Regions from separate parts of the Homo sapiens genome. Here region 2 is linked to region 1. Evidence: fine-mapped expression QTL. A gene starts in region 1. The other region holds a variant in brackets. All regions are shown on one strand. Distances are from middle to middle. Region 1 holds the start of SULT1C4 (sulfotransferase family 1C member 4). Region 2 overlaps LIMS1 (LIM zinc finger domain containing 1).

The links. PIP is the estimated chance that this variant, and not a neighbour inherited with it, causes the effect.
Region 2: its variant is the best candidate, but not a certain one, in a credible set for the expression of SULT1C4 in lung (TOPMed, PIP 0.55).

What each region holds. Positions count from the first base shown.
Region 1 is chr2:108,376,800-108,379,718 of GRCh38, reverse strand. SULT1C4 (sulfotransferase family 1C member 4) reads right to left here and starts at 1,765. Exons shown (of 7, transcript NM_006588.4): 1 at 1,213-1,765. The coding sequence starts at 1,381.
Region 2 is chr2:108,672,793-108,675,711 of GRCh38, reverse strand. It overlaps LIMS1 (LIM zinc finger domain containing 1), which reads right to left. Exons shown (of 10, transcript NM_001193483.3): 5 at 2,683-2,832. Among named protein-coding and RNA genes, the nearest start is that of LIMS1-AS1, 4.3 kb to the left of the region's middle. The variant T/C (reference allele first, on the strand shown) is at 1,505.

The sequences.
Region 1 (2,919 bases):
TTCTAATAAAATAGCCTTCATTAATGTATATGGTTTTAGTTATGATTAAATATTACTTTAGATGGCAAGTATTTAATTTTCTTAGTGTGCTTTTTGAATTGCTTAAACCTCATTAATGCCATGAAAAACCTAAATGAACCATATCTTTGTACTTGCGTTTGGCAGATAGAGAAAAGATTATTTATGTATTGAATTGATAATCAAGTGGAATTGTCAATGAAATTAAGATGATGAGATGTGATCCTCACCAGTGGCTACTTTTAGAAATTTACATTCAGAAAAATTTGATCCTGAATGGGCTCCTGATGAGTAAGATTGGGAAATCAGGACCAAAATGAAACAGATGGACAAAGAAGAGACCAAGGCCTCCATGTGCCTGCAGAATCTTCTGTCAGGATCTTGAGAGATAAGAACAAAAGAGGATTTTGAACAGTCTCAGAAAATACTGAGGTTTAGATTTTTTGATGTGTGTGTGTTTGTGTGTGTATAACAAGAGTTTTTGACAGCTTGATTTTGCAAAGAGCAAATGTATATACAATTTGTGTGTGGACCCAGTAATGTATTTCTAGTAGATATGTAGATATGCAAAAATATTTATAGAGAACTATTTCCACCTCATCATCACCCAATTTTTATGACGTGGTGGCTCGGCTTAAGCTAGTCCTACTTTTACAGACAACTTTGTTAAACTGATTGTTGAGATAAGGCAGTTGGTTCAAAACTTACCACAAAGGAAGGTGGAAATCAGAAGGATGGTTCTCAGACCCTGAGATGGGAGGGCTGCTGAGGTGATATCAGCATTGCAGAACCAAAGCTCCCCTATTTCTTTCCCAAATCAGACTCAGGATCACCTTTCTAGCTCACACACTCAAAGCAGCTTTTTACAAGATCTACAATAAGGGCCTAGATTGGGAATGAATAAATAAACAAGTCTACCCTTTTGCTCTTAACTGTTTTCACTCTCTCCTGGGAAAGTGAAAAAAAAAAAAAAAGGAAGTACATCATAGTATCATAGGAAGATTGAATTCTAAAAATTTGTATGTCATTTTAGTATGTTTCGGTATAGCTTCAGTTTCCACTAGTAACTTTCCTTAGCCATATCACTCTGTCCAGAGTTTTCCAGATCAACTTCTTTATTTCATGACTAATGCATACTTCCACTTACCTTCCTAACTCTCCTCTTCCCCTTCCCCTGCAAGCCCTTCCACCTACCTGCTTTAGGATAGGTAGAAATAAGCAGGTCATCAGGCTTGGCTTGGAAGTTCCAGATCTTATCCCAGATGTCACAGGTGTCTGTCGGTTGAAGAATTCCCTTCACGTAGTTGACACTTAAGCGCTTTGTTCCATCAAATGTAAAATCCTCCATGTCGTGTAAGGCCATTAGTGTAAGAAATCAGAGGGCTCTTCCAGACACAAAGTTATCTTCAGTCAGCATATGGCTGCGTTGTGGATAGAGGCAGCACTCTATCCACCACACTACCACACTATCCAGCCCTCTAGCACAGGCCTGTCTGGGCCAGCAAACAGGGAGAAAGTGAGTTGCAGGCCTCCCGACTCAGGTTCCAGGGAACTGGAACTCTTGTTTATGACTTTGTCCACTGGCAGTTTCCTGAGGAACTGCAGCCCCCTCCTCACCAGGCTGTGGCGTCACAGCAGAGGCGGCCACAAACCCTGCTGGCCAGCAAACAGGGAGAAAGTGAGCTGCAGGTCTCCCGACTCAGGTTCCAGGGAACTGGAGCTCTTGTTTATGAATTTGTCCACTGGCAGTTTCCTGAGGAACTGCAGCCCCCTCCTCACCAGGCTGTGACGTCACAGCAGAGGCGGTCACAAACCCTGCTGGCTGGGTCCCGTTCCAGCCCTTCCGTTCTCTGTGAGTTAACAGGACATAGTATCACATTGTTTATAGCTCTCATGTCTGTGTCCATTAAACCCTTCATAGATAATTTCAGTAATTATTCCTTCTGGGAATTTTAAACAATTAAAAAGTTGCAGGACTTGCCTGTGAAATTACAGATTCTACACAGAATGACTTCCCTGAGAGACTGCAGGGACTTTCCCGTGGGCTATTAACAGTGGGGGCCTGGATGGATCTGAATCTCCCAGTACAAACATCTGCCAGGGTCAGCTTTGTTATTTTTTAAGAGTAAAATAAATAATGCTAAACTGGAGAATTGTAGGGGTTTCATCACAGCTATGAAAACATGTATGCCTCATTTAAAGCAAAAGGGATGCAGAAAACTCCAGAGTTAACAGAAGACAGTGGCTGCCTTAGGAATCCATTCTGCCCCTGATAATCAGAAATTTCACAACTTGCTTCAGTCCCTGCCCCCGGCCTGGCCTGCACCCCAGGGCCATGCCACACTTGCTCCCCATGGCAGCACTCCTTCTGGAGATCTTGTCGGCTCTTGTGTGTCTGGCTGTCTGATTCTCTTTCTTCGTGTCCCAGCTTTGATGCCCCCTTTCTGGAGAAGCCTTCTTTGACTTTCTATGTCATCTCAAGTAGGTCCCTCCTATTTCCTTGCTCATGGCACTTTGTGTTCCTTTAGAGCAACCATTGACAGTTAGTTTTTGCGTGTTTACTTGTTGGCATTTTCTGTCTCCTTCACTACACTCTAAGGCACATGAAATGGGGCCTGTTGTTTTCTCACTGTTTGATAGCTGTATGCCTAGTGTCTGGCATTCTTCTATTTCTCGAAAGAATGAATGAGTAAAACTAAGCAAAAATTGAGGAAGCGAGTTCCTTGGGCCATCATTATGTGGGGACTAGGTGAGTATGGTGGCTGTGGCTTGACATCCTTCAGAGAGAAGTCAGGCTGCCTGTATTTGAACCCTGTGCCAAGTCCCAGTAGCTGTGGGCAATGGCAGGTTACAGAATCTTTCTCTGTTTCATATCACGCTTTTCCTCAGGTCTGAATTGGG
Region 2 (2,919 bases), 300 kb before region 1:
AACAGGTTTCAGACTCCTACCAAAACATCTGTATCTTAAAAGGATAAGATGCAAGACTAGGTCAGATACATACCACCACACCAGTCATATTCATAATTTCCTTCTTATATTATCACATTACATTTTAGTCCATTTGTCTTCCTCTAAAAGCTACAGGGAATAATCACAGTGCTGAGGGTAGACTCAGTAATACTATCTGCTATGGTGTGACTGTGTCCCCAAAGTTCATGATCCCCAATTCTGAGGTGTTGAGAGGTAGGACCTCTAAGGGGTGATTACATCATGAAGGCTCTGCCCTCACAGATGGATTAACGCTGTTACTGAGGGGGTGGGTTCCTTATAAAAGGACGAGTTCAGCCTCCTTCCTTCTCTTCCTTCCCCCCTCCTCTTCCCCCACCATGTGATGCCCTCTGCTATGTAATGATGCAGAAGAAGGTCCTCACCAGATGCCAGCCCCTTGATCTTGGACTTCCCAGCCTCCAGAACCATGAGCCAAATAAACTTCTGTTGGTTACAAATTACCCAGTTTGTGGTATTCTGTTACAGGCGCATAAAATAGACTAACACACGACCTTTCCAAGCAAACTGAGAAGTTGGGAGACTAGTTCCATTTACTAACAATTATTTAAATTGTCACAAGCTGTTGAAAATAGTTATAGGTTAATAGGTTTATTTTCATAAACAACAAAATGCCCAGAATTTTCCTTCTCCAAATACTCAAATTAAATATTATTTTCAGTCTCCTGCATCAATAAACATTTGGTCAGAGATGGTCCCAATTAGTCAAACGGACTTGTTTGAATTTCATCCCTTTTATGTAATTCTCTAGGAGAGATGCTAATGAAAAGTGGACAGAGGTGAATCCCCAAGAGGAAGGACAGGCAAGAAAACGAGATAAGGCACAAACTGATAATTCAATCACAAAAGATGAGATGGCTGAACTTATACAACCAAACTGTTTTCTTTCTTTCTCTTTTTTTTTTTTTTTTTTTGAGACGAGTCTTGCTTTGCTGCCCAGGCTGGAGTGCAGTGGCGCGATCCACACTCACTGCAAGCTCCACCTCCCAGGTTCATGCCATTCTCCTGCCTCAGCCTCCCGAGTAGCTGGGACTACAGGCACCCACCACCACGCCTGGCTAATTTTTTTATTCTTAGTAGAGATGGGGTTTCACCATGTTAGCCAGGATGGTCTCGATCTCCTGACCTCGTGATCCACCCGCCTCGGCCTCCCAAAGTGCTGGGATTACAGGCGTGTGCCACTGCACCTGGCCCAAACTGTTTTCTTAGTATTTGGCTTACTGTTTCTTCTCCATCCCTACTATAATTTAGCAAGTAAGTTCACATTAACTACAGTAAAGAATATTTTTTTATTTTTATTTTTTGAGATGGAGTCACGCTCTGTCTCCCAGGTTCGAGTGCAGTGGTGCGATCTCAGCTCACTGCAACCTCCGCCTTCCGGGTTCCTGCCATTCTCCTGCCTCAGCCTTCCAAGTAGCTGGGACTA[T/C]AGGCACCCGCCACCGTGCCCGGCTAATTTTTTTTGTATTTTTTAGTAGAGACGGGGTTTCACCGTGTTAGCCAGGATGGTCTTGATCTCCTGACCTCGTGATCTGCCCGCCTCGGCCTCCCAAAGTGCTGGGATTACAGGTGTGAGCCACCACGCCCGGCCAAGAATCTTTATCCACTAAATTTTTATACTAGGCAGCAAACTGAGAAAAATTCATAGCCCAACAATTTATCATAACTTATTGAAGACAAAAAATTAAATATATTTCTTTTAGATATAAACCAAGCCAAATTAAATAAATGTAACAACATCTTTTAAGATAATACCTAATTATTACAACTGTAAAAGTTATGCATGTACAGAGATAAGACCTTTTTTTGTTTTTAGATCTTCGATTGGAAAAACATAGTGATGACAAATATTTCTGGGGCTACTGGGAATATTTTTAATATGGACTGATAGTTGATATTATAAGATTATTGCTAATTTTCTTAGGCATAATAAGAGTATTGTGGTTCTGGCCAGGTGCAGTGGCTCATGCCTATAGTCCCAGCACTTTGGAAGGCTGAGATGAGTAGATTGCTTGAGCCCAGGAGTTTGAGACCAGCCTGGGCAACGCAGCAAGGCTCCATCTCTACAAAAAATTTAAAAAAATTAGTCAGGAAGGGTGGTGTGTGCCTGTGGTCTCAGCTACTCTGGAGGCTGAAGTGGGAGGACTGCTTGAGCCCAGGAGGGTGAGGCTGCAGTGAGCTCTGATTGCCCACTGCACTTCAGCCTGGGCAATAGAGCGAGAGAGACCCTGTCTCAAGGCAAAAAAAAATTTACAAAAAGTATCGTGGTTCCATAGGAAAATGCTCTTATTCTCAGGAGACGCATACTGGGACTCATGAGAAATTTTAGAGGTATGCGTATACAGGCACACGTGCACACATACATAGGAGGGTGAAACGAGAATGTGGACTGTATACACACAAGCATGGCAAAATGTCAACTGGTGAAACGAAATTAAGTGTATACAGGTTTCATTATATCATTCTCTTGACTCGTCTATAGGTTTAAAATTTTCTAGACTAAAAATTGGAGAAAAACAATTTGGTTTGCTAGAGTAACAGAAATATAGATAAATGTAATCTTTCATTCCCACTGCTTGTGTAATAAAAAAGAAACAATTCCAGTACCCGCAGTTGGCGCAGTTGAAATGGTCTGGATGGTAGGGGTCGTTCTTGAATATCAGAGGCTGCTCATCGATGATAGCATGGCATTTCTGGCAGATGTATTTCCCAAGGCCTCTGGCTTTCTCACGATTATGACAGGGGCGACACAGGTGTCTAAACAGAGTCAAAACTTAAATTTAAAATTTTAGGTTCTTTCTAATGGTTAAAAAGAAATATGCTTCCCTTATCTCTGAAAAGAAA